Linked DNA regions of Homo sapiens. The protein of the gene in region 3 purifies or fractionates together with the protein of the main gene of each other region. This does not show direct contact. Each region holds a gene or a part of one and is shown on either strand. Other genes may lie near its edges. The genes, in order: TLE4, CEP120, HLX and SEPHS1.

Region 1 (7,026 bases), on a different chromosome or scaffold from region 3:
AGAGCTTTATTATTTCCAGTTCTGAGTGCCTTCTATGTATACTAATAGCAAACAGAGGGCCACATTAATGTCATTAATGAAAGCAGGCTCTTGGAATTCATTTGGACTCTTTGAAAGGACTCTTGCCAGGAACATAGTAGGTGCTCACAGAGTGGTTGTTGTTGAGGTGAAGGCTGTCCTGTTGAAGGCCTTGAAGGAAATTGTGTGCCTGGTTTCTTAACTATTTGAAATCTCAGTGCTCTTTAATAACCATTTAGTGATTCTAGACTAGAGAATGAGATGGCTTTTCTAATAAATTATCATTAAGAATGTATAACACCATCTAAACTTGGAATAATCTTTCTTTCTCTTCCTTTAAGATTTAGTCTTCATGACCTCCTAATTGCTAAATCAATTAGCCTTTTTCTCGGCCATCATCCCTCAGAACCTCAGCCTTTCACAAGCGTTACTGCCACCTTCTCCTTGTCTGAACTGAAATCTGGCCGTCTCCTGAGATCATCCCTTCACTTGCAGCCCTATACAGGGTGACCTTTCCATTTCATTCACTGACCTCAGCACCAGCGGTGGGGTTAATAACAGCTGTGGTTGCCACCCCTTCTCCAGCCTCTCCATGAACAGAACTTTTCTACCTGTTGGTGAAAACCTTGCTCCTTTCAGGCTCGTGCCATTGGACTACCCCCTCTTCCACCTTGTTGGGAGTATTTCCCCAGTGTATTAAAGACTTGATACATGGCTGAGAGTCTTCCACTACCCAGAGGCTGCCATAATCCTGGTTGACTCTGGTATCTACAAAGACAACCCCCCAGTATCTTCATCATGGTCTTGGACCCCCTCATCTCTAGTGAACATCTGCCCTCCTCACCTTCAGTTACCTGTATTTACAGGTTCACAAAGAAGAGCTTATCATCACCCCTGTGTCACCTCCAGATTCTAAGCGTCCCATCCAGTACAACCTACTGTGGCTCCAGTCAGCCAGAGTGCTCCACGTTCTATTTCCAACTTACCACTATCTCCCAGGCTCTAGCCACTGCTTCTCCTCTAGATTACTGTGTAGTCCCCAGACTAGTTGTCTTTCGTTTTGCCACCTACACTCCATTCTTCACCCAGCAATCAGAAGATCATTTGAAGACGTTAACTGAATCATGTCACTTTTTTTGCACAAGTCTCCAGAATCATATCTGTACTCATCACAGCCTATATGGCCCTTTTTAGTTTGGCCTTGCCTGTCCCTTCACTCTTATATCCTATATGCTCTCCACCGAATGCACTCTGGCCTCCTTGCTTCGTTCTGGTCTCAAGGCCTTTGCATTTGTTGTTCCCTCTGCCTGGCACGTTCCCCATTACTTATTTGTAAGGCCTGTGTCATTCCTTCAGCTCTCCGCGCATATGCTGCCTCTTCAGAGAGGGCCACCTGACTGCCACTGTGTGCTCCCCTACTCTCTTTTATCTGAAAATGTGTGTGTATATTTAATGGTATTTTCCACTGTCTGAGGTGTTTATCAGGTATTTATGTTTATCTGTTACCTGTTTTCCTCTCTAGGATGTAGACTAGTGGAAGGATAGGGACTTTGTCAGTATTGTTCACCTGATTCCCCAGCACCTGATGGTAACTGGAACATACGAGGCATTTAGGAAGTATTTGCTGAATAAATGAATAATTAGCACGCTTTCTTGCTCTGGCCTTCGAATTTGCCATATTCCTAATCATCATACTGTCTTCAGACAATTCGTACCCATTCTTTATGTTGCAGCCCTATTGCCATTTTCTCTGTCCTTTTCACTCTGTTAAATTCCTAGACTACCATGCATTGTTCACTGCACTGACCATCTGACATTTTGATAGTTACTTATGTGCATATCTCACTAATGAATGTGCCCCTCAGGCTGTAATTTCAGGAGAACAAGGTGTGTGCATTTCTTTCTTATTCCATTCTTACCATAATGCTTGGCACACTGGCATACTCAAGAAATATGTGTTAAGTGAATGAATCTTAGTAAATTGTCATGTGATTGAACATCTTCTCCCCCTTTCTATTTTATTATCTCTGCTAATAATCTACTTCCATAACTACTCTGGCCGGAGATTCCTTAAATGTCCACATTCTTTGGGATTCTGTATCTGGTCTGCTTTTCACTGCATAATCTGCTCTGGGATTCTTCTTTCCGTCCCCTTAGCTTCAGCCATCACTTCTTTATGGATGATATCTAACCTGACCTCTCTCCTGAATCACAGCTGTTTGGATTTCTGCCCTGAAGTTCAAGAAAACCAATTCCTTCACCTCCCCATAGGTGTACCCTTGAGTTATGCTTTCCTGTCATCTTTACTAGGTAATGCAGTCTACCTAGTCACCCAGGTTCTTAGCCCTAGGGTCCTCTTCAGCATCTCTCTCTCAGGTCACACATCCAGTGTATCTCCAAGTCCTGTTGATTTGATGCAAGAAATGTCTTCTGTCCATTGGCTTCCTAGCTTCCCACCTCCTTCCCCTCCAGCAAGTCTCACATACTATGTTCTTCTACAACGCTCTGTAGTCTGTGGAGGAAGTAAAAGCCCGCCACTGTCTAGTGCCCTCATCTTCCACAGCCACAATGCATGCGTCATTTTTTCTGGGAGCATTCAGGTAGTTGAGGACCATTCAATAATGGACTGAATTTTGATGAACATGGCCAGCCTGTAAATTTTTGCATTAAGGAACGATAAACTGTTTTAATTTAATTCTACAACTTCCGCAGTTTGGTCCAGCTTCCTGTCCTTTACGCACCCACAATGCTTTCCCTTGGTATGTCTTTTGTAAACTATTTTCTGTAAGCAGAGCAGATTCCCAAGCTCCGTGCCCAAGTAGAGTAGCATCTTTTCCAAAATGGGCTGTTGCCTATGATAGTCCCCAAGATAGGCCCAGCTGCCTCCTGCCTGCCACTGGCGTCTTCTGCTTCCAGAAACCTAACATGCGTCACAACAGCCTCACTCGTCCCTTCCTGACTTCAGTGCCCTAAAAATAAAAATGAGTCTGTTGGGGGAGACGCTCTTACTTAAGTTGCATTTTAGGACCAAATGCTTTTACCACCTGAGGGCTTTCCCTGGAAATGAACTGGAGATGGAACTGCCAAGAGATACTCACAGGTAGGCCTTTGGGGCTGTCAGGATGCCTTTTTAGGTTCTCATTCCATTTGGATTGACTAGGATTTGTGATTGTCAAGTCTGATCAAGGTTTTAAAATAGGGCTTTATCTTTTTTTTTTTGGCACATCTGTCATTTCAACGTCTAAGCCTAGAGGCTCTTAACTCCTTAAAGCTTCCTGATTTTGGCCTACTCATCTCCCTTAGTAAGTCCCTTGCCGGGAATGAATTGATCTATAGGCGAGGTCTCATCACAGGCCTCTGATTCATCCAAAGGAGAAGGCAATGCAGGTTTATAGGGCATCCCTGAAAGGTGGCTACTGCACTTGACGGTGGTTATCTCATTTAATTCTGTGAGGTATAGGTAGTGTTCTCTTCATTTTAGAGACTAGAACTGCTGTTCTAGTTTAGAGATTCTAAGTAACTACTGATGTCCCACAGCAGCTTGTACAGAGTCAGCCTGAGATCTGGCCCTGTAGCAGCCTAGCTGTATGATTCTGGAAATTATGTTCTTTACACTGTATGGACAAATTCGATTTGTTCGTAAATCACAAGTGGCACTGAAGGTGTTTTATTTCTCATCTCATTACACTGAACAGTTAAGTGACATTTTTTTACATTCCCCTCTTTCTTTTTTCCTCTCCATTGCCTTAGAGCATACTCCTTCCATGTTAGCGCAGATGGTCAGATGCAGCCTGTCCCTTTTCCACCCGACGCCCTCATCGGACCTGGAATCCCCCGGCATGCTCGCCAGATCAACACCCTCAACCACGGGGAGGTGGTGTGCGCGGTGACCATCAGCAACCCCACGAGACACGTGTACACGGGTGGGAAGGGCTGCGTCAAGGTCTGGGACATCAGCCACCCAGGCAATAAGAGTCCTGTCTCCCAGCTCGACTGTCTGGTGAGTGAACATGGATGAACAAGACTTAGACTTTCATTCAGAAAACAGGAGGGGCTGATGAGAGAACTGTATGTATGAGCAACACCACACAGTATTGATCCCAGGTGGATAGTTGCTCTTCAGGGGACTGCGATCTTTCACTTGGAGGTGTGTCTTTTGCTTCCTAGACACACAGTGATCTAGTTCTTCATGTGTGGCATGTGCACCATACTGATTTCATTAACTCTGCCTCCCATGGGAAAAGGCAAACCGCTTGTTTTCCTCTCTGATGGTTAAGCAAACTAAGAGCCCATACAGTGACTATGAGTGTGCACCTAAATATCATCTGTCACATGTAAAGAGTAACTTACTGCCTCATGTGGCAAATACTAGATAGCCCCTCAGCTGCTTCATTGGCCTTTTCCCTTGAGTTCCTTAGGAAATGTCAGTTTAGTAGAATTTTTGCTATAGCATGAGGCTACATCAGTTGAACATAATTAAATATACATAAGATTCCCGTAACCTCATGAGCTAGGAGGAACTTTTTTTTTCTGTAACTTAACACTCCATGATCAAGTCTTGCCTCTGGTGCAGCTTTCATCAAATGCATGATGCCCTTTAGTCACGTAATGCAGGCCCAGGCAAAAGGAACAGACTGCCAGGGATCTACCCCCTGAAACTTTCTTGACATCAGTAGCAGGACCTTTCAACAGCAGAACTGAGCCTGAGTCTACCAAGGTTCCAAGTTTGGATACTCCAAGACTGTGAGAGCTCCTGCATTAGTGTACGTGTGTATCTGTGTGTGCAAATGATGCAAGCAGTTGGTTAATTTGGTGGTGGTGGGAGTGGGTCTAGAGCTTTGCATTTTGATGCTAATTAAGATTAAATATCTCAGTACTACATTTTGTAGATCAACTTTAAGTACTTCCCTAATTTCATGTAATTTTCTAGCATTAATCCACTTTATCATTGTCATAAGTATAAACGGCTCATTAAACCAGGAGGGAACACAATACTTTTATGGATTTCTGCTCTCATGTTAATGCTGTTTTCCTTTCCTCATGAGTAATCTCTTGATGGTTTTTGTCTCTACAGAACAGGGATAACTACATCCGTTCCTGCAGATTGCTCCCTGATGGTCGCACCCTAATTGTTGGAGGGGAAGCCAGTACTTTGTCCATTTGGGACCTGGCGGCTCCAACCCCACGCATCAAGGCAGAGCTGACATCCTCGGCCCCCGCCTGCTATGCCCTGGCCATCAGCCCCGATTCCAAGGTCTGCTTCTCATGCTGCAGCGACGGCAACATCGCTGTGTGGGATCTGCACAACCAGACCTTGGTGAGGTAGGTTAGCAGGATCTGTTACCAGGTTGTGAGGAGGAGCCGATTTTACCATATTTTGCCAAAGTGCTGTGTATATAGGTATGGGTGTGTGTGTGTGTGTGTGTGTGTGTGTGTGTGTGTGTGTGTGTGTGTAAAGTGATATAATTATCTTACTAAAAATTGTTCAGAACAGGTCCATTTTAAGATGTTAAAAATAAATTATCAGTGTGAAAATCTTGTTTTCTGTAGTACTTGAACTTCATAAAATGAGGTCTTTTTTCCTTCCTTGACTTATACTAAAGCATCGCCAATTTGTTTTAATAAAATGAGGTCAATTTGACATAATTAATGTACATAAAGTTTCCATGACCCCATGAGCTCCATGGACATCTGTAATTTGCCATCTGTGCTTGCTAACAAACGATTATTGTTGATAGAGCCTCACTGAGAAGATTCACAGTGTATGGTACTGTCTTGAGTGCCATACACATCTAACAGGTTCATTCCTTCAGCAGATATTTAGCAACTCCCATGGGCCTATGCACTGTATTGGGTGCAACTCACTCTGAAATGGTCTAGATTATCTGTTGTCCCACCTTTGAGGTTGGATAGATATAACTTTACAAATGAGATTATAAAAGATTGGTGTTGGTAGATGGGAAAAGCTCTGAAATGATTTTCTAGGTGTCAATACCCTAAGAGATTAGCAAGCAAGTAGAATGATCAGCTACAGGTATGAAAAGGTTGTAACCAGAGGTAGCTACAAGTCAGGTGTGTAAAAGAAGAAGGCTTTACTATCTGTTATTTCAAAGTACTGAAACCTATAGATCCCAAAACAAATCATCACTTTCATTGCTTATCAGGCAGCCTCTTATGAGAAGCTGCTTCTAACCCTGTTTTCTCCTGGTGACCTTGGTACGTTTTGCCATGAGTGATTCCTGGGCCAGTAGTTCACACTGAGTGTCTTTCCAGGTGCCTTACTTGAGAGCCTCGCCTTCCGTCTTGCACAGCCACCCACAGACACATTGCTGCTCACTGGCAGGACTGGTCCTGTCGCTCCCTGTGCCATCCCCAGTCCTTCTTTAAAGGGAAAATTAAATTCTCTCTCCCTCATACCACAGTAATAGAATAGGTCTCAGAATATATCTTTAGTTAGTGCATATATGTGTAGGCGTGTTTTCTTTTGTTAATTTCAGAGATTTTTTTCCCATTAGTAATATCAGTCATGTTTTCATGAAAAAGTAATTTGAGGAATTCCTAAGTATTCAAAACCAAGCAAAAAGTACAGGACATGTGGCATCTCTTTGTATATGCTTTGTTATTACTTTGAATAATTAGAAACCATAATAAACCAAAATGAAATCTACAAATAAGGCCTGCATTGAAATTGAATCATCAAGGAATTCTAAATTGATTTTAACTAAAAGCTAACTTTTCAAGGGCTTTCCCTCCATTTTGACATTTTCAGGCAATTCCAGGGCCACACAGATGGAGCCAGCTGTATTGACATTTCTAATGATGGCACCAAGCTCTGGACAGGTGGTTTGGACAACACGGTCAGGTCCTGGGACCTGCGCGAGGGGCGGCAGCTGCAGCAGCACGACTTCACCTCCCAGGTATGATCCGTGGCTGAGGCATTTTAAAGATACGGTTTTAGGCTGAGGTGGGCGGATCACCAGGTCAGGGAATCGAGACCATCCTGGCCAA
Region 2 (7,026 bases), on a different chromosome or scaffold from region 3:
CTTCTAGAATAGTATATTCAGCCACCTAAAATATAGTAAAAAAAAAAAAAAAAAAGTTACCTACCTTCTCCCAAACTTAAAACACACACAAATTCAAAAATACACATCATTTCACTGAAACAGAGGACCTAAGAATAGGAAAGTCACAAATTACATCCGCCAATTCAAAGAAAAAAATGTGCTTTTATGAATTTGAGACTGGTGATGGTCATATTTCCTCCTCTTGGTCTTTTTTCTTCTCCAAGATAAACACAAATTTTAACTGTTATTCACATATTATGATTTCCACATCCTCTAGTATGTTAGACTTAATCTAAATTTACAGAGGATGGAAACAAAAGACTGCTAAATTTGAAACGCATATGTAGTGTAAGCAACTAAATAGCCAAGTGTGGAGTCCAGGGAAGAAGTCAGGGATGGGGGTGCGTGTGGTGGGTGTCTTGGTGTATATAATGCCAAGAGAGTGAATGACATCATCCAAGGAGTGAGTATACAGAGAGAAGAAAGGATGGTATTTGAGGACTGGGCTGTGGGACAAGCCAATAAAGCCAACATGAGGAGAATCTAGCATGAAAATTAGGAAAGAGAGACCAGTGAAGACAGCGGAACACAACAGTAGAAAAGTGTAGTCCAAAAAAAAAATATAGTCAAAGAAGCCAAATAGAGGAAGTGTTTCAAAGACAGAGATAAACCGGGTAAGGATGAGGAAGGATTGTTTGTTAAGACAAAAACTAACTGTTCTGGCGAGTGAGAAAATGAATTGACTAGGGAAAGCAGTAGGATTGTGAGCAGCCGTGAGGACGTCTTAGCGCTTGAGGTCCTAAACCTCCTTAAAATCATCTCTTTACCACCCATCTTTTCTCCATAACCTTTCACTACTATTAGTTTTTGGCTTTCGTTTTTTATACATATTGCTTTCCTGGTCTCCTGGACTTTAGTTTCACATTCCTCTATTCTAGCCACTGTACCTCCATCAGAATTATTGTTATAGAATGAAAACCTAATTATTTTATATAAAAATCTTCATTTAAAAAATTTCTGATATTTCTACCGTTCTCAACCAGGGTTTATCATCTGAACCACAAAACACAGAAAATGATTTAATTATTTTCTCCATCCTCTCCTAAAATGGTACATAACTACCATTTTAGATGCATAGGATAAAGTTAATTTATTACCAATAATGGATCACTTAGGGTATTAAGGGCTTCATTCTCTCAGGAAGGCCTGGCTAAGAAAAGCCTACAGTATCTAGTCTAAACTCTACATAATGGATTTACGAGATCATTTATTCTCCAGGGTATCAACCTCTCTTACCTTATTTCTTGAGGCACACTCTTTCCTCCCCTCTTCCAACATCAAACTACATATAATTTTCTTAATGCAGAGTGTATTTCAAACTTCTTTGCCTTTTCCTCAAGGGGCTGTGTCCGGAATACCCTTTGAGTCTACCTGGCAATATCCACTAATCTTCACCAAAGTGAAAGCATGATCTTATCTACAGAACACTTCCTTATGTAGAACTGATGTCTTCCTTCTCTGTGGGTAATGACTATCTTCAGCTATCTGACAGGCAGTCATATGTAAGACAGAGTATATCTCAGTTGCTCCAGAGGGCAGAACAAGAACCACGTATATATCTACTCCTTCAGGTAAATTTTCAAAGTGTGAAAGAAGTTATACATCGTTTTTTAAGACAAATCAGGTAAATAAACGAAAAGGCTCACATATAATTGACATTTAAAAAATACTATAGTGAGAGTCTCAGGGTATTTAGCTTTAAAATATTTCATCATACTGAAAAACAACTTTTTTTTCTCACTACTGACTTGATTTTGTAGTGGTTGATAAAATTTAAAAGAAAAACTGATCCCATGCAAGACAGGATACTTTAAGACAAATGAATTAAAGTATTTGGTCTCAAAAATGCACTTAGGTTGAAAGAAAATGGCAAATCTCAATCTCAGATCTACCTTTATCATATGACTAATTTGAATAAACAGCACAAACACTTATTATGTAGGCATCATATTGTTTTCTGACTGGAGTTATTAACTAGCCAGGAACTCATCATTTCAGGCTGAAAGGGTAGAAGTGTATAAATGGAAACCAATTACAAATTTTAGCTGAAAAGATCATTATTACCAAAATGACAACAAACCAAAAATTACTTGGTGAGTTTTCACAGAAAGTTTAATTATGGCACAAAGTGAATTTGTCACGGTTCTAGTAATTTTATTAACTTTTCAAGTATTTCCCGATTTGAATTTTGCAGACCTCAATACTAAAATACTCTTCAACACAATGAAGAGAAATGATTCAAGGATAAACTCATCTTGTCTTAAAGGCTAGGTTAAAAATTTTAAAAATTAAAATGGTATTTTCCAGCTCCCCCAGATTCAATGAATATCTAATAGGTGAGGTCTGTAAATATTACTTAATATGAAACTCACTTAATAACAGGATAACTCGCATAATGTTAAAATGTATGTCAGGGCTTCTAATTATTGTAATTTTGGTTATCTGAACGTTTCTAAAGAATAGAGACTTTGAAATACTCTTATTTTTGTCTTTCAGCTTTTTTAAAAGTTCACTGGTTATTCAAGTTTTTAATGGTGAGAATTAAGTTAGAAAAAGCTGATTTGGTTATTTTAAAATCAAAGGCCTGTGTACTTCTGTTTCCACCCATAAAAGACAAATGGCCCTCCTTTATAAACACAACTTAAACAACATTTATGAAACAACTGTTTTTAGACATTGGGCAACAGGCAGCACAGGACAATGATCCCTAAAAGGTGAGAAATAAATGAGGCAACCACTACAATATATCTAGCTTACTGCCTGAAGACTGTAGTAGCTCAAGGAAGGGGAACCCAAACAGACACTAGCAATCTTGCTGAGCTGAGAAAACGGAATGGAGACCAGAGAGGCTGAGGCAACTAGAGTTGATGAGAGGAGGGGGTTATAGAGAGAAGGAGCACTGGAGCCCTGTAGAGCCATCCCCTCAAATCTGAAGCTGAATACTGATTAACCACTAATAAGAGTATTTCTAAAGTCCTAAAATTATTAATAGAATATTTGAAGAAAGTCTGTTAGGGTTGTTTTATTTAATAACTTCAGTGTAAATGGATAAATATTAAGCTTTTGCTTCAGGAATAAAATCAGATGGTCTCATGTTATCATTTTTAAAAATGTAATTTATTTCATAATTCTTAAAAATAGCTTAAACGTTTGAGGCATTCTATTAACTTACAGATTATAATATGTAGTTTTATATATATTGAAATGTGCTTTTATTTCTTTTTTATACATCAGCAGGGTTTTTCTCTATTCATTTTTGTATATTCATATACACACACACATATTTTTTTTTAAGAGATGGGGGTCTCACTATGTTGTCCAGGCTGGTCTCAACCTCCTGGCCTCAAGCAATCCTCCCTCAGTGCTGGGATTACAGGTGTGAGCAACCATACCTGGCCTATATTATATATTTTTTGAATAGGTAATACATTTGCATATTCCAAAAGCACAAAATACTTTACAGTGAAACGCCTCCCTTCTCTATCCAGAGCCACCACTCACTTCTTCCATGCCAACATATCACCACTAAAATTAGTTATTCCTTCCAGAGACTGTCTTTAACGCAAATACAAGATATTATCATTAATATTCTTCCTTCTCTTCCTCACTTTTACACAAGTTATTACCTTTTTCTTTACTAGTGATTCTCTTTCTCGGTCCCTTTTCTTCCATTCCTCTGCAAGAGCCTGCATATGAGCCAGTTCTTTCTGCTTCAGCTACAAAAGGAAGAAAAATAAAGTCGCCAAAAAACCCCAAATATGTCAAATAAATGAATCAGTTGTCAGTTAAATAACCGATGCTGATCACTAATATGATTTTTTCAGGCATTCTTTTTTATTCTAAAAAAAAAAAAAAAAAAAAGGAGGATGCCTGAGGCAAATAATGCCCATTTGAGTTCACTTCAGGAAACTATAAAACTAACAGTGGGTTGTGCTTTCTAACTCTTGTTTGGAGACTAATGATGCAAGGTTCCAGGAGGGCATGCCAAATGAGGACATGAAATTTAAAGAGTAACTTCCCAATTTTACCCAATAATCATGAACAAAGTTTACAGAATTCTGAGTGGCTTCTGCCAAGGTGCCACATTTCAGGTATTTTTTGATTCTCAAATTTTTTTAAGTAAAGCATTGTTGACATTCAAAGAAGTTAGATAAGGTACCTACAGAACATAGAGATTAAACCTTGCTACGGAGAAGGAAAAATATACAGAGCAGACAAAGCAGATTTTTTAAAGTAACATTTAAAAAGTAACCTGATTTTCAAATATATCTTCTTGCATCTCCTTCCACATTTCTAGCTCAAGTGCTGCTTTGTATTCTAACGTTTCACGAGGCTCTGTCTGGATCTCTGAAGGACAAGGTGCTGGAGGAAGAGAAGACGGCTTTTGCTGTACGGCAGATACACCCTAAGAGATGAACCAAAAAGTACATTTAAACACTCACACACATATGCACATTAGATTCCTTTTAAAAAAAATTTGATAACATTCAATTATATTTACCTGAGATGAATCAGAGATAAAAATCTCACGCATTTTTACTAGTCCATAATCTTCTAGAGTCACTGTGTAAGAAAGATCTGCTATCCTGTTATTTGATCTACAAATAAAATAAGAAATACCTTAAAATTCACAGAAATACTTTATATTATTTTTCCTTTTATTTCCCCAGTGCTTTAGCAATGGGAAGTAAGCAACATTTTCTGCTCCTAACTCTATTGTTTTTGAAACTGCAGCAACTTCTGTAGGCTTCAACACCTTCCATATATATATAAATTGATCATCACAAACACCCTGCTAAATACACGCATACATTTACTACAAAATGACCCCTATGAGAGCTTTAAAAGGTATAAAGGTGAAATTTAAAATCTTACTGCCCACAGGTAATTATTGCTAATATGTAGTTTATTTCCCTCCTGTTTTATTTATATATAGATATACATGCACACATGCATGCTGACTTCATACAGTTTTGTCTTGTTTTCCTATTTACATCAGGGGCATTTTCTCACATCATAACATTAATTTAAAAATGTGATTTTTTTTTTACTGCCTGTAAAATATACAAATGAATTTATGTAGTAAAATATACTTAACAATTCCCCTACTCTTGATTATATTGGTTATTCTGAATTCTTTTTTCTACTTTTCCTGGGATGTACATACTCATAAATATTTTACTAGACATAAGCAATGCCTCTAGGCCTAATTGGCACATAAGCAATGCTTCTAGGATAATTATATGTTAGTATGAGCATAATGAGCACCTCTTTGTATCATACAACTGCATGCAGCATTTGTCATTAACCAAATGAGAACAAGATAAAATATTAGAAGAAAATAAAATGCTAGTAATACAAAACCATGGTTTTGTCTAAATCAAATATACTCTGGTCAAACAAAACTTGAATGAATGGTTCTCACACAATTAGAACTCTTAATTAACCAACTTTTGTATTTTCTTCTTCTAATCTCACAGATTTCAGAAGAAATGAATAAAGTTAAATGAAGCACTACTGTATCTGACAGAAACTCCTGAGAGTATCTAAGGTTCTCACTTAAGTAAATCTCCTAAAACTTTCTGTCTACAAAGTATGGCAATAAAAGTTAATATTCATAACAAACGGGCAGCATTAAAATAGCTTCAATTATTAGTGATTTTATTATCTTCTACTTACGACAAAAAAATGCTAATTTTTAAGAAAGATTCTTCAATAATAGGAGTTGAAACAAAATGGCCATGAATGGTGAGGAATAAGGAAAGACATTTCAATACTTTTAGAGCTAAAATTTCACTGAGCCTTGTTTCTCTTTTTTTTAGTCTTATCTTTAATGATAAAGGGCATATGATATATAATGTTAAGTTAAATTTTAAATTTTTATTGTTAATTTTGAAAGGATAATTCAACAAATATTTTACTGTATTTAAAATATGTTAAAAAAACGCAAGTTTTTCTTTGTGGCAATGAAGTTCAGGGCAAAAAACCAATAATTATTTTAAAAACTGCCTCTGACTGCCAAATATCTATAATGTCCTCAGACTTTTGATTTGGGGTAGGAGTAAAATATTTTAAGTGGAAAAACAGTCTTAGCCATTCCCAGTGCAAAATAATATAAAATACATTATAAAGTTTAACCTCAAATTACAAAATAAAAAAATAGATCCTGCATTTAAAATTCTCAAGCTAGAGAGAGGAAGGAAAATAATTAGCCATCTGAATATTACAATACCATGGTAACACAGACTCTTGACTTCTGTGAGGTGAAATCAGTATCAGAAAGCTAAAGGGCAAAGTGGGGTATAGCTGCCACAGGTCAGAGAAGATCAGAAAAAGGAGGTTATGAAAGGGTGAAGTGGTGGATCAGAAAAAAGAGGTTATGGAAGGGTGAAGTGGTGGCTGACTAATCAAAATCATTCCATGAATTGAAAAGAAAAGCAAATACCAATTCTGTGAAATGCATTACCCTTGTGCTGCTATAACAGGCACACTTTCACTGTAAGTTTGACGCCAACACTGTTCACCATTAGAACCTAAAAAACGAGTTTTTTCTGAAGACAAGATGTTAGAAAGCTGGATTCTCGCAATTCCCAGAAGTAAATCTTTACTCATTTTATCCTTGTGCCATAGTTCAACCAGTAATGGAATCCTAAGGAAGAGAGAAACATGTGTTCATACCTATCAACTCTGACCTAAAGTCTTTTCTGAACTAAATTCTTTGAATTCCCTCAATGGAGTCAAAGATGTTTTTTGTTACCTGGAATGTCGTCTAACACAATTGTTAGACTGAATGCTAAATTTCACAGGCACCAAATATGAAATGATGTTTCCATCAATGATGAACCTCACATACAATGATGGTCCCATAAAATTATATCATATTTTTACTGTATCTTTTCTGTTTAGATACACAAATACTTACCTTTGTCCAACTGCCTACAGTAT
Region 3 (7,114 bases):
CTTGCGTTTGCACCGCAGGAGGCCAGTCGGCCGGGATGGAGGGGACCTACCAGACTAGGCCGTGCGCTGCTGCCCGCCCGAGGGCGCTGTGCGCTGGAGCCAGAACTGCCTTACCTGTGCGTCCGTGAGGCCCAGCATCGCCGCCAGCTGCTTTCGGTCCGGCTTGGTCACGTACTTCTGAATCTCAAACCTTTTCTCCAGGCCTTTCCTCTGCAGGTTGGAGAACACAGCGCGCGACCATGAACGCTTCCTTTTGTACGTCTGCGGCATGGTGTCCTTCGTGAGCACAGCATAGGGACCTGCCGCAGAACGGGAGCCAGAGGGAAGAAAGACAAGAGGGCCGTTCAGTGTCCAGTCCTTGACCTGCCAGCCTGGGGGTCCCCGTAAGGCTTGAAACTGTTTCGTGTTAACTGTCGATTCCACCCTCATTCAGAAAGCCCTTCGCACATACACCGAATGGCCCCTCTAAGGAGGAATTTTACACGACAGTCGGAAGACCTAAAGCGAGCGTGGAGTGGAGAAGCCTGGCGGCTTGTCCTTTAATTCCAAGAGAAAAACATAAACCTCATGCGTGGCCATCAGGCCTACGAAGAGTAGACAAAAATGTCCCTTGGGCCTGAATGATGACAGCCCTGAATTGAATTATCTCGTGTGTGTGTGTGTGTGTGTGTGTGTGTGTGTGTGTGTGTGTGTGTGTGTTTATTCCCGCATGTGTCCAGGCACCCAGACATAAACTCGCCAAGCACAAGTGTTTGAGGTCATCCCAAAATGTGTATATGCTAATAAGCAACATTGATGCTGCATTTTTCAAGCCCTCTGGGGCGAAAAGACTTCGAGAAAGCCCCCCACCCCACCGTCCACGCACACACTTTCTGGGATCTCCAGGCGCCTCTACCCCTTTTCAAGGGGAACCATCCGAAGCGAGCGCTAGCTCGCTGAGAAATCTTTCGGTTTCTCTCTCCTGACTCCGTAGCCTCCCGCCCCAATTGTGAGATTGCGACACCGTGGCAGCCCTGGAGGCGTCAGTCCTGAGATTTCTGACTGTTAGTCGGCTCGCCCGTTAGGCAGTACTCTGGAGTTTTTCCGTACCTGGAAACGTGTCTTGGAACTGATGCTGAACTGAATTTCTTGGGTTCGAGTTTAAGGGACTCAGGATTGCAGAAGCCTCGTTAATGGGATCTAGAGATGCGAAGAACTGGCCGGCCGAGGGCTGCAGGCCTGAGAGGTGCACCCCGGCGGGCCGCCCACCGGTTAGCAGGGAAGTGAGATCTGGGGACAAGGGAAAAGGATAGCAGGTTACATCTCGGGCACACTCACACTCTCCGCTGATTTGTTCCTCCCCTTCCCCTTGCCCTGGATTCACTTTTATTGAGCGAAGTCAAGAGAGAACCCGTCTAGGCGCTGAAACCTCTCTCTCCCAACAGTTGCCAAGGAGCGACGCACGAAAAGTTCCTGTGTGTCCCTCACGTCCATATGCATGTATATAGTAAGTAAAGGCTTTACATAAATCGGCTTACGGCCTCACTTTCACGTGTCTTCCAAGAACGCCACAGACGCAAAACCTCCGCCCCAAGGTGGCCCCACTCTGCCCGCTCATCTAGGCGGTTTTGTTTATTATTTACATTTCCTGGGTGAAATTTTTACTAGAAATCAGATAAGTGCGAAAGTGTTTCCCAAAAATGCTTTAGCTGTCAGAAAATATAATTCTGTCTCTAGATACATTATTAAAGAGATCAAAGTCATGTTAGCAGATAATTACACCAACCACTTTTATAAATATTGATTCTAAGACGTGTTTTTAAAGAATCCCTGGAGTCATTTTTTGTTTGTTTTACATAGAACAGGTGAGTTTTAGACCTAATGTTTTGTAGTTTTCTTACAATTCGTTTTCTTCTCTCCCGTTTTACCGATTTGTCCTTAATTGTAAAAACACTCAAAGGCACCCCAAGCCAGCCCGGGGTCCGGGGAGTGGGTCAGTGGTCAGAGGCCTGCAGCCTCCCGCCCAAGACCTACCTCTCAGCGTGTTGCCTTCTTTGACTTTTGGGTCAAATTCTGCAGATAAAATGCGGTCAATTCCAAATTTGAGGTCTTTGCTGGAGGGGGCCGGGGCAGAGCCACTGTGGTGGGGGTTCGGAACCACTCGCGTCCCCGAGGCCGGGGGCTGCAGGGCGCCAGCCCGGGGCGGAGGCGGAGGCTGTTGCTGCTGCGGCTGTTGCTGCTGCTGTTGTTGTTGCGGGTGATGGTGGTGGTAGGCGGCTGAGAGCGGAGACAGCCGCTGCGGGAAGCCAGCCGGGACTTCGGAGGGCGCCACCACTGGGGTGGGTCGAAGCGGGGATCTGGCCGCCGCTTGGAAAGAGGCGTGCGGGTGAACCGAGCCCAAGTGCGCGGTGAGGGCGGCGGCCGAGGCCCCTGCCAGGCCCTCCGGGGCCGCCCCCAGATCCCCCACGCCGGCGTGCAGAATGTCTGCGATGCAGAAGGAGGGCTTTTTGACGGCGGCGGGGTCCAAGGGGAAGGAGCAGCCGCCTGGGCCGGCCGAGGAGCAGTAAGCGGCCGACCAGAGGCTGAAGTTGGAGGCGTAGAAGGGAGCCAGCCCGGCTGCGAACATCCTGCCGGGGTGAGCCGCGCGGCTGCCGCAGTCCAGCCGGACTGGGTGGGTGGGCGCGCGGGGAGGGGCGCGCGAGTCCCGGAGAAGGCGGCGGCAGCCGAGGACGATCCGCTTTCGCTTCTCCGCCCGCACTGAGGAAGAGAGGCCGGGAGCCCTAGCGCCACCGAGGGAGGAGGCGAGGGCCGGATCTCGGCCGGTCACCGCCTCGCTCCCTGGCCTCGCTTTAAAGGCGGCGCGGCGCCCGCACTCCTCGCGGGCTGGATGAGAGCGAGGGGCGCTGGGGCCGCAGGGCGGGCGGGGGAGCCAGGGAGACGGGAGCCGGACACCGCAAGAAAACCCAAATAGCTAAGCCCTAAGAGCTAAATTTAAAACAACAACAATAATAGTCCGTTAGTTAGGGGGGGGGAAAAGTAATAGAAAAAAAAAAAAACTCGTCTCTAAAAACTCCCAAAGTTTTGGCAGGAGCTTTCGAGTCAGGCCCGGGGTAGGACCTCGATCCGAGCGCTCATTGGTCATCCTCGTGACCAATGGGAGCGGGGAGTGGAGGGGAATTAGGAACAAGGGGGCCTGGCCGGACCCTAGCCACGCCCCGGCCACGCCAAAGTTTTTGCTGCGGCCGCGTGGGCTTAGTAGCGCACATCGCAGTGCTTCTTGCTACTCTGCGTAGGGGCCAGGCAGCCGCTCCGGAGGGCTCTGACTCTCTTCTAACTTCTGCAGCTCCGAACCGCCACGGGGCAAGGAGGGTTGATCACAGGAGCTTTCCTGAAGCGCTTGTCACCCGGGGCGAGTTGGGGGCGTGGGGAAGGGACGGTAATCTCACTCTTTAGGGCTCTGCAAAGCCCGCCTCCCGGTGGAGAGCGGAGCGCGCTTTGGCCCCTTTGCTTCCCTTCTCTTGACCTCATTCTGCTTTTATTCCAGGAGTCCGTGTCCTCGGCAAAGCCCCTCATCTTTCCTGGGCCCTTGCCCAAATGTTGCCGCCCTGAGTCCCGGCCCAACTCAGCACCGCGTCCGCCTCGTGCCTCCCAGGAGATCCTCCGGGAAGCGAGGAGGAGGGGCGGCCGCAAATTGGTTTTATTCTGAGCTGTCACACAGTGACAAATTGAACGAGTGACTTTTCAAACAAAATAAGACGGATGGCTCCAAACGTCTCTCTTAGACGCAGCCAAACCTTTCCCCGGAGCCTCAGAGGCTACAAAACAGGCTGCCTCCCGAAACCCGGGAGAGCGGCACGCGCTTCCATCCTTTGCAGGAGGTTGTAGGAAATGTTAGCCTCACCCCTCCACCACATCTCCGGATCACGTGGGGTTCGTTGTTTTGCAAGTGCCCACAAGAGCAGATTTCCGTGGGGTTCAATACTGCTTTCAATTCTGTGACAGCTTCCCCAGGAACCCCTTGGGCCTGGTTGCAGGAGGAGCTGCGTGGTGGTCAACGTCTTCCATTCGTGCCTTGGGTCTTTAGAACGCAGGGTAGTGGTGGTGGAGGTTTTGTGCAACATCGACATATCTATTTTAAGAATTTCTTCTCTTTAAATTATAGTCAGAATGAATTTCCCCACCCCTCTCCCAAACAAACCACAGGCCACCCAGATGAGCTGTTCTTGCACATTTTCAGGAAGAAAATAAAATAATACGAATAATGAAACCACGAAAACTTTTGTTTTCGATTGCCCTAATAAGCATCTCCTAACAGGGATTCTGTGACATTTTTATTTCCCTTCAGCACGAAGGCTCCTCACCAAATAAACCCAGAAAAGCAAGTGAACTTGCCATGCCTATCTCGAGTTCAGGGTTTGGGCTTATAAAATTAATTTCTGGTGTTTTCTCTAGCCCCTTGATGCAGATGCTATCCTTTTAAGCTTTTGACTTTCTCCTGGAAAATTATCAATCACTTCTGATCAGCCAGCACTAAGATCTCTCCCTCTCCCTCTCTCTCTCCCTCCTCCCGCCCTCCAGCTCTCCCGCTCTCGCTCTCCATCTCTCTTTTACTGAAAGGTTTTCTTCCCCTGCTCCACGCAACCAGGAGAGAGGTGCTATTTCCAGAGATAGATGGGTGTGTTTGGCTGAAGGTAGGGGTACCTGGGGCGAGAGACGTATTAAGACCAGTTTTTCTGTGTCAAGGTGAAGGCAAAGGAGCGACAAGTACAACATGGGCAATTGAGGCGCTGGCTGAGGGTTCTGGTGAGCCTTCGGTGGGAGTGTGCGTAGCGGAGGCCGTGAGCCCTCTGCTTTCTAGTGCCACTTCCAGTTTGATTGCGTTTCTAATTTGACTGCAAACATTTAGACCTCAGCCTAAGCCCAAACTCACGGTTGTGAAAGAGGTGCATTTACTCCTTACCCGAGGCAGCGCCGCGCGCCCTCACCCTCTCTCTTAAGAAATAAGACTCCCCTATCAGCTTTCACCCTTTCCAAGGTTTGCGACGCTCCGGGGTGGGCACGGGATACAGACCCGGGGGAATGCGAGTCCTCAGGGTTCCCTAGGTGCCCACAACTCGCATCTGCCGAGATTCAAGGCCCGGAGCGCTGGGCAGATGCGGCGAAAGCGAGGCCCCGAGGCCCGCCGACTCCTCGCGGCGCCGCGAGCCTCCCTTTCTCCGCCAGGCCCGCGGCTGGAGTGCAAGTTGCAACTTCGCCTGCGCGCCCCTTGCTCTCCCAGGCCTCAGCTTCCTCGCAACCGCGTCGGCGCCATCCAAGGCCTTACTCCCAGCTCCCGGAGGCAAACGCGAAATACAAGTCTTTGGAGCGACCCCCGCCGCCCCCTCTACCCCTTCCCCAGGCCCAAGCCTGGCCCCTGCAGGCCCCTCGCCGAGTTCTGAGCCCGCAGACTCCCGCCCTCCTTACTCCCCACTCTTCAGAACCAAGAAAGCAGCAGGAAACCCTGGGCTCGCCGGAGTTCAGGTCATCTCCTGTTTTTTGATGGGCTCAAACTCGGGACTAAATGAGCGGATGTGCCTGCGAGATTGGTCTCAAAATAGAAGCGGCCTTAGTATTTTAGGATACTGCAGAAATCCTTATTTCTTCCGGAGAAAAACTCTATAATGACTCCTAGCACTTCCCCTTTCAATATTTGTGCAACTTTATCTCCACCGGCAAGTTGCTCGGGTGACGCAAATCCGCCCTTATGTATTACAACTACCAAAATAAATGCACGGAAATCAATTCCCTTCTAGCAATGAAAATATAAATATACAGCTGCGACTTTCCCCTTTAATCTTTGCTTTCCGAGAGGCTCCGGGCTGTGGCGAAATGAACTGGCCCAGAGCTACTGAGCCGGGCAGGGAGGTCCTGGGGGTAGAGGCGAGGGCTCCCCAGGGGCTGGTAGCCATGGGGGTTGAGAATTTAACAGGAAAGAAAAGGGCCTGGCTAAACCGAATTAACTTGAGCTTGGTCTACGCAGCGGAGACCCTAACTGTGGCCTCTTTTCTTTGGAAAATATCGCATTGGCTGGGGTTTCTGATCATGCTGACTGCTGTTTTTAATGCTTTCAACTCATCCCTTCACTTTTCCTAGTTAAACACAGCCAAAGACGATTTCACCATATTGGGAATGGATAAGATCAGAGAAGGTTCGTTTTATAATTTAACAATATAGCTTATGGGGATTTAGGGTTTAAAAGGGTCCTGAATCAGGGGCTTATGCAATGACTGAGGCAAGAGATGGGTTTCACCATCCTTTGGTTCTACCTGTCTTTGGAGCCTCCATATTTAAATCATCAGTGCAGACTTTTGTCCCAAAACCAGAGTCACAGATCCACACTGAGCACAGGTCAATTATAGTGAATGCTGGGCCTTGTATATTACAGGACCATAACTCTTCAAGGACTTGAACTGGCTATATCTGCTATCTGTGTTGCTTTTTCTTGTGCATTCTGGGTAAAATAATGTGCAAGGCAGTTGCTCTGTGGACTTCGGAACCCCTCTCCTCTTAATTTCAAATATTCTTGCAAACATGGTACCTACTGGCTTCAAGAAAAGAGATGTAAATAATTAAATATTTACAATCAGAAAGAAAAAGAAACACAGCTTATCCAGCTACTTGAGAATTCAAGAAATTTGCAGCAACGTAGGAATCTGTGTATATTGTGCCTGTCTTTCTGCCAGCTGGAGACTTATGGATCACTGGTCCCAGCAGTCATACTTAGTGGTGGATATGGGAGTTCTGTTCTTTGTGGGTGCCAGATACTAGAGATTAGGACTCTAATGATCCCCCATAGACACACCCCCTACCCACACACGCATACTTTGGCCTATTCTAAGTAGGACACAACTCTCTTTCCTTGGAGACCTTAGAGTTATTCCAGAATTTCTGAGTTTTTGAGAAGAATTGGACTTTGCTATGGGGTGGGAAAAGCAAATAATGCAATAGGGCTACAAACATCCATAGCTATTTGATTTATTCTTTTTCCTTTTCTCCATTTCCCAGATGTGGCAGATTTGCAGGTGGCCAGCTCTCTATTTGGCTGTGGCCCTGCCCTTGAACTTTATCCATAGGTCTTGCTCCAAAGTTTCAGACA
Region 4 (7,026 bases), on a different chromosome or scaffold from region 3:
CATATGTGTGCATGCGTCTTTACAGCAGCATGATTTATAATCCTTTGGGTATATACCCAGTAATGGGATTGCTGGGTCAAATGGTATTTCTAATTCTAGATCTTTTTTTTTTGAAACTGAGTTTCACTCTGTCACCCAGGCTGGAGTACAGTGGCACGATCTTGGCTCACTGCAACCTCCGCCTCCTGGGTTCAAACCACTCTCCTCAGTCTCCTGAGTAGCTGGGATTACAGGCGCCTGCCATCGTGCCCGGCTAATTTTTTGTATTTTTAGTAGAGACAGGGTTTCACCATGTTGGCCAGGGTGGTCTTGAACTCCTGACCTCAGATGATCCACCCGTCTTGGCTTCCCAAAGTGCTGGGATTACAGGCATGAGCCACCACGCCCGGCCAAAAGACTGACTTTTCTTAACAAGACATCAAACATGGAAAGTGACAACTTGGTTAGGAGAGAAACTTCTCCAAAGAAGATACACAAATGGGTAGTAAGCACATGAAAAGATGCTCGGCCTCATCAGTCATCAGGCAGACACAAATCAAAACCACAAAGACATTCCACTTCACACCCAGTAGGCTGGCTAGAATCCAAAAGACAGACAGGAAAACAAGTACTGGAGGGGTCATAGAGAAATTGGAATCCTCATACATTGCTGCTGGGAACGTAAAATGGCGCAGCCATGTTGGAGACCAGTCTGATGATTCCTCAAGTTAAACATAATTACCACATGACCCAGTCAATTCTTAGGTATACACCCAAGAGACCGGAACTTATGTCCACACAAAAACTTAGAATGTTCATGGCAGCATCATTCCTAATAGGTGGAAACAACCCAAAGGTCCGTCACCTGAGGAATGGCTAAATAAAGCAGGGTCCATCCATGCAATGGATTATACAGCCATGGAAAGGAATGCGATACCGATTCATGCTACAACACGGATGGACCCGGAAAACATTCCGCTATGGGAGTGAAGCCAGACACAGCATGTCATGCTGCACGATTCCATTTCTATACAATGTCCAGAACAGGCAAATCCTTAGAGACAAAAGCACATTCTTGGTTGCCAGAGGATGGGAGCAGGAGGGAAATGGGAGTGAGCTACAGGGCTTCTTTTTGGGGTGATGAAAACATTCTGGAATTGGATAGTGGTGATGGGTGCACAACCTTGTCAATACTAAAAACCAACACATTGTGTACTTCAAAATGCTGAATTCTATGTTATGTGAAATTTTGTTACGTGAATTATACTTCAACTAAAAAACCTAAAATGTCAGCCGGGCGCGGTGGCTCACGCCTGTAATCCCAGCACTTTGGGAGGCTGAGGCGGTCGGATCATGAGATCAGGAGATCGAGACCATCCTGCCTAACATGGTGAAACCCCATCTCTACTAAAAATACAAAAAATTAGCCGGGCATGGTGGCAGGTGCCTGTAGTCCCAGCTACTCGGGAAGCTGAGGCAGGAGAATGGCATGAACCCGGGAGATGGAGCTTGCAGTGAGCCGAGATCATACCACTGCACTCCAGCCTGGGCGACGGAGTAAGACTCCGTCTCAAAAAAAAAAAACAAAAACACCTAAAATGTCTTAAAAATAGGATTAAAATACTGACACATGCTACAAAATAGATGACCCTTAAAAGTATGCTAATACTATGCTAAGTGACAAAATCCAGGATGGAGCAGGAGTGAACAGTGAGAGCCGAGGAGGATGGGGTTTCTTCCTGTAGCAATGAAAACATCCTAACATCAACTCCGGTAATGGCTGTACAACTCTGAGTATACTCCAAACCACTGACTCTTTAAATGGGTGAATGGTATAGTACGCAAATTATATCTTAATACATCTATTTTTTTTTTTTTTTGAGATGGAGTTTCGCTCTTGTTGCCCAGGCTGGAGTGCAGTGGCGCGATCTTGGCTCACTGCAGCCGCAGCCTCCTGGGTTCAAGTGATTCTCCTGCCTCAGCCTCCCAAGTAGCTGGGATTACAGGCATGTACCATCATGCCTGGCTAATTGTGTATTTTTAGTAGAGATGGGGTTTCTCCATGTTGGTCAGGCTGGTCTCAAACTCCCAACCTCAGGTGATCCACCCGCCTTGGCCTCCAAAAGCGCTGGGATTACAGGCATGAGCAACCGCGCCCAGCCTTGCGTTCTTGTCTTTTTTTTTTTTGGAGACAGAATCTTGTTCTGTTGCCCAGGCTAGAGTGCAGGGGCATGATCTCAGCTCACTGCAACCTCCACCCCTGGGGTTCAAGCGATTCTCCTGCCTCAGCCTCCAGAGTAGCTGAAACTACAGGCTTGCCCCACCATGCCTGGCTAATTTTTGTATTTTTAGTAGAGACAGGGTTTCGCCACATTGGCCAGGCTGGTCTCAAACTCCTGACCTCAGGTGATCTGCCCGCCTCGGCCTACCAAAGTCTGGGATCATATGTGTGAGCCACTGCACCTGACCTTAATACATCAATTTTTAAAAAGAGAGGACAGAGAGAGAAAAACAGGTCAGGTGATATGAAACAAAAATCAACTTACATGATAAATTCATTGGGTTGGCAGACAGTGGTAGCCACTCCTCCCAGGACAATCCAGGGGTTTAGTACTGTTTGGCCGCCTGTTACAGATGTTCCTGCTTCCTCAGCTGCGTCTTTAAAACCTTGGATAATCAGAGGCATCACTTTATCCCTTTCCTAAGGTTGAAAAAGGTACAAATAAAAAGTCAAAGAATTCTGTTCAAAACCCAGAAAAGAAGGTTTTTACACTTACAGTTATAAAAAGAACCATAAAATCCTAAAGGAAGTCCTCAAAGTTTACAGACAGGGAAGGTTGTTAGGGGCCAGGCATAATCGCTCACGCCTGTAATCCCAGCACTTTGGGAGTCCGAGGTGGGCAGAGAGCTTGAGCCCAGGAGTTTAAGACCAGTCTGGGCAATGCAGACAGACCCCTTTCTCTACGAAACATGTAAAAATTGCTGGGTGACCGGGCACAGTGGCTCATGCCTGTATTCCCAGCACTTTGGGAGGCTGAGGCGGGCAGATCACCTGAGGTCAGGAGTTTGAGACCAGCCTGGCCAACATGGTGAAACCCCGTCTCTACTAAAAATACAAAAATTAGCCGGGTGTGGTAGCATGCGCCTGTAATCCCAGCTACTTGGGAGGCTGAGGCAGGAGAATCGCTTGAACCTGGGAGGCAGAGGTTGTAGTTAGCCAAGATCGCATCACTGCACTCCAGCCCTGGGCACAAGAGTGAGACTTCATCTCAAAAACAAAAAAAAAAAATATTGCTTGGTGTGGTGGCATGTGCCTGTGGTCCCAGCTATTCCGGAGGCTGAAGTGGGAGGATGTCTTGAGCCCGGGAGGCTGAGGCTGCTGCAGTGAGCTCTCATCACACCACTGCACTCCAACCTGGGCAACACAGGGAGATCTTGTCTCAAAAACAAACAAAAACAAAAGCTAGAAAATATTTCACATTGTCATCATTTTATCCAATGCTGGAAGATGTTCTAGACAACAATGTAAATAAAGCCCAGACACCAACATTGTCTGGACTCAGTGCACAGGACCAGCCCTAGGTCTGATGACTGCTGGAAGCCAGCTGTCCAGTGCTCCTTGAGAATCTCAAGACTGGCTTCCTAAGCACAGGTCCCCTGCCCTGCAGTAGGCATCCATCCTACCAAGGCTTGGCTGCAGGCTACGAGTAACCCACACTGACAGAGCCTGCGCCAAGACCACCATGCACCACTGATGACTACAGCCCATGTTCAAGGGCAGGAAAGAGCCTACTGGAAACTCAAGTTTCTCTAAGGCAGGGCAAACTGTTGGGGGCTCTTGGGACAAAAACAAGTACCTGTCTATCTAAATAGGAATTCATCTCTGGTTCAAAGAACAGGTTCAGGCAGCAAGGGCACAGAATGCTAGGCGATGACACAGAGGCGTGAGCCCCTGGTGGCCCTATCCCCCGTCACCATCTACGTCCACGACATCCCCAGCCACAGCAGAGGGAGTGCCCTCTAAGTGCCACGTGTCCCACATCTGTAAGGCTGTGCCTGATTCACACTGAGGCACCATTACTATGGCCAAAACTTTATTTTAAAAAATGCACAGGTCGGGCACGGTGGCTCATGCCTATAATCCCAGCACTTTGGGAGGCCGAAGTGGGTGGATCACGAGCTCAGGAGTTCGAGACCAGCCTGACCAACATGGTGAAACCCCATCTCTACTGAAAATATAAAAATTAGCTGGGGGTGCTGGTGTGCCCCTGTAATCCCAGCTACTTGGGAGGCTGAGGCAGGAGAATCGCTTGAACCTGGGAGGTGGAGGTTGCAGTGAGCTGAGCTTGTGCCACTACACTCTAGCCTGGGTGACAGAGTGAGACTCTGTCTCAATAAAACAAAAAAAAATATACACAAATGCCTTGGGCCGGGCACGGTGTTTCACGCCTGCAATCCCAGCACTTTGGGATGCCGAGATAGGTGGATTACCTGAGGTCAGGAGTTCAGGAACAGCCTGGCCAACGTGATAAAACCCCGTCTCTAATAAAAATACACAAAATAGCCAGGTGTGGTGGTACGTGCCTGTAATCCCAGCTACTTGGGAGGCTGAGGCAGGAGAATTGTTTGAACCCGGGAGGCGGAGGTTGCAGTGGACTGAGATTGCGCCACTACACTCCAGCCTGGGCGACAGAGTGAGACTCCTGTCTCAAAAAAAAAAAAAAAAAAAGTCTTGGTTTCAGTCTACTGGGAAGAGAGAAAGGGAGCAGGTGGCAGAAGTGCAGAGATGACTAGGCCAGGCTTCCTCATTTTAATTTACTGGTAACTGCCAAAAAGTGGAGAGCCAGAAGGAGTGCAGGGAGCCATATGGCCTGGGCTCCTCGCTTTCTAGATGGGAAACCAAGTCTAACCAAGGCCAGAGATGCCACCGGGACAACACGGACCAGGCAGCAGCCGGGTAGCTCCTACTTACCCTGTCGGTCATTTTATTACTGACTCCAAGGAGCATCAGCATATTGTCACATTCCGTGACCCCCATTGCATAGAGGTCACTGAGGACATTGGCACACGCTATCCTGCCCTGGGAAGAGAGGGAAACATGAGAAAGGACGACCGGGGACTTTCCATCTGCAGAAACTGAGTGAGCCATGGAGTGGACTCCACAGAGAACGTGGAGACTTTCCAGGAGTAGCAGCTACTAGGATGGGGTCCTCAGTTTCTATGATTTGCAGACTGGCAACCTTTCCTGCATCACAGAGTCACTAGGCCATTCGTTTTTTCTCAGACATTCCTGTTACCACCTCTTTCTTGTGCAGGACAAAGAATGTACCAGTTTTTCTCCATTCTAAATTTTAGAAGTCTGCAATTTATTTAGATAGGGGAAGGGGTATATGTGCAGCGAATGAGGAGGAGAAGCAAGTTTAGAACCGACAGTCTTGGGGGAAGAGCTATGGAGCGAAAAAGCCTGCAAACAACTCTCCTAAAGAAAAGTTGGAAACAGCCACATATCCCAAACAGATTCTAAAAATGGCTGGCTTTAGTGGTTATAGAGATGGAGATAGTCTTTGTGCACTTGGATTAAGAAATGTTTGCAGCTTAGGCTGGGTGTGATAGCTCACGCCTGTAATCCCAGCAATTTGAGAGGCCGAATCAGGTGGATCACTTGAGGCCAGGAGTTAAAGACCAGCCTGGCCAACATGGTAAAATGCTGTTTCTACTAAAAATATAAAAATTAGCTGGGCATGGTGGTGCACACCTGTAGTCTCAGCTACTTGGGAGCCTGAGGCATGAGAATTGCTTGAACCTGGGAGGTGGAGGTTGCAGTAAGCTGAGATCGTGCCACTGCACTCTAGCCTGGGCAACAGAGCAAGACTGTCAATAAACAACAACAAAAAAAAAACAAAAAAAATTTTTGTAGCTTCTTTTCAAGGATGTATGAGATAAACAGAAAAATCATCTTAAGAAACAAATAAAAAAATACCCAGGGCTGAAGTCATATTGTTTTCAAAAGAAAAAGAAGCATTTCCCAGTAAATGATGTCATTTTATTAGGAACTTTAAAATACAATTCAACAGAAATGTGGTAATGAAGATTTTTTTATTGCCACTGGAGATTTTTAAAAGTTAAGTTGCCCTTATCTAAATTTTTATCTTTTATAGACAATAAAGAGAAAATACAAATTTTCCTTCTGACATAAGGATAATCAAACTCCCAAGTGTTATCACTTCCAGTGGCTGTTTAATTGCTTGCTTTAGGCTTTCTTATACATTCCTGGAGGTCAGCAATGCAGCTCAACAACCATCTGTGGCCACACTTTCAGTATCATCAAGCCAGTCCACAAGGCCAACAGGTGGTCTACAACTCGCACAAGCCAATCGCTAGTTAGGGGGGTGGTGATTTAGCGCCCCTTCTGTTCTGGGTGCTCTCATTTTAGGAGATGCTGGAAAACAATGGACTGTGGTTTTAGCCATCCCTGCCACCTGGTCATGTGGGACCTGGGCTGTGGCTTACCTGCCCAGTCTCAAGAGTATTGCTCCAGAGGAGAAAACGGACAGATGTGCGGAAGAAATATAGGTTTCCAATAATCTGGTATTTGTCACTGGTACCTGAGGGTGAACACCCCCCACGTGGCTGCCTCATGATAAAGTCCCTACAGTGCAGCCTGATCCCACTGTCCTTGCCACACACGAAGAACACCTGGCATTTTATAGCAAACCAGATTTTCCTAGTCTCTCCACTGGCTCCTCCTGGGTGGTAGCAAATTGGGGTTAAAGGTTGGGTGGATCAAAGGGTGGCTGGCTGCAACTACGCAGTAAACAACTGGGGAACACACCTCAGCAGTGTATCATCAGTAGCCAGGAACTTTAACTCAGTGGTCAGAAACCTACTATGTACAGCGGCACATCACACGGTGGTGGGTGTGCAAGTGGCTGGGTTGAGTGAATTAACCAGATATCCGAATTAATGTTTGAGGCATCTAATTGTGATGAGATACTAGCTCCTTAATCTCTTGAAGGAAACATTTAGGATCAGTCCTATTACAGAGGA

Evidence for each region.
Region 1: the proteins of HLX (region 3) and TLE4 purify together in Homo sapiens (affinity purification with mass spectrometry; 2 studies listed by BioGRID and IntAct, with this or other methods). This does not show direct contact.
Region 2: the proteins of HLX (region 3) and CEP120 purify together in Homo sapiens (affinity purification with mass spectrometry; 2 studies listed by BioGRID and IntAct, with this or other methods). This does not show direct contact.
Region 4: the proteins of HLX (region 3) and SEPHS1 purify together in Homo sapiens (affinity purification with mass spectrometry; 2 studies listed by BioGRID and IntAct, with this or other methods). This does not show direct contact.

The regions. Positions count from the first base shown.
Region 1 is NC_000009.12:79,714,954-79,721,979, forward strand, and holds part of TLE4 (transducin-like enhancer protein 4), read left to right. Parts: intron 1-359; coding exon of another isoform or gene 360-528; exon of another isoform or gene 529-2,185; intron 2,186-3,043; coding exon of another isoform or gene 3,044-3,118; intron 3,119-3,768; coding exon 3,769-4,018; intron 4,019-4,619; coding exon of another isoform or gene 4,620-4,685; exon of another isoform or gene 4,686-4,771; intron 4,772-5,092; coding exon 5,093-5,340; intron 5,341-6,787; coding exon 6,788-6,935; intron 6,936-7,026. UniProt on the Homo sapiens protein: Transcriptional corepressor that binds to a number of transcription factors. Inhibits the transcriptional activation mediated by PAX5, and by CTNNB1 and TCF family members in Wnt signaling.
Region 2 is NC_000005.10:123,378,404-123,385,429, forward strand, and holds part of CEP120 (centrosomal protein of 120 kDa), read right to left. Parts: intron 6,731-7,026; coding exon 6,548-6,730; intron 4,680-6,547; coding exon 4,583-4,679; intron 4,487-4,582; coding exon 4,334-4,486; intron 3,798-4,333; coding exon 3,708-3,797; intron 26-3,707; coding exon 1-25. UniProt on the Homo sapiens protein: Plays a role in the microtubule-dependent coupling of the nucleus and the centrosome.
Region 3 is NC_000001.11:220,875,349-220,882,462, reverse strand, and holds the start of HLX (H2.0-like homeobox protein), read right to left. Parts: upstream 3,021-7,114; 5' UTR 2,606-3,020; coding exon 2,014-2,605; intron 1,270-2,013; coding exon 1,090-1,269; intron 300-1,089; coding exon 115-299; intron 1-114. UniProt on the Homo sapiens protein: Transcription factor required for TBX21/T-bet-dependent maturation of Th1 cells as well as maintenance of Th1-specific gene expression. Involved in embryogenesis and hematopoiesis.
Region 4 is NC_000010.11:13,331,292-13,338,317, forward strand, and holds part of SEPHS1 (selenide, water dikinase 1), read right to left. Parts: intron 5,060-7,026; coding exon 4,952-5,059; intron 2,681-4,951; coding exon 2,526-2,680; intron 1-2,525. UniProt on the Homo sapiens protein: Synthesizes selenophosphate from selenide and ATP.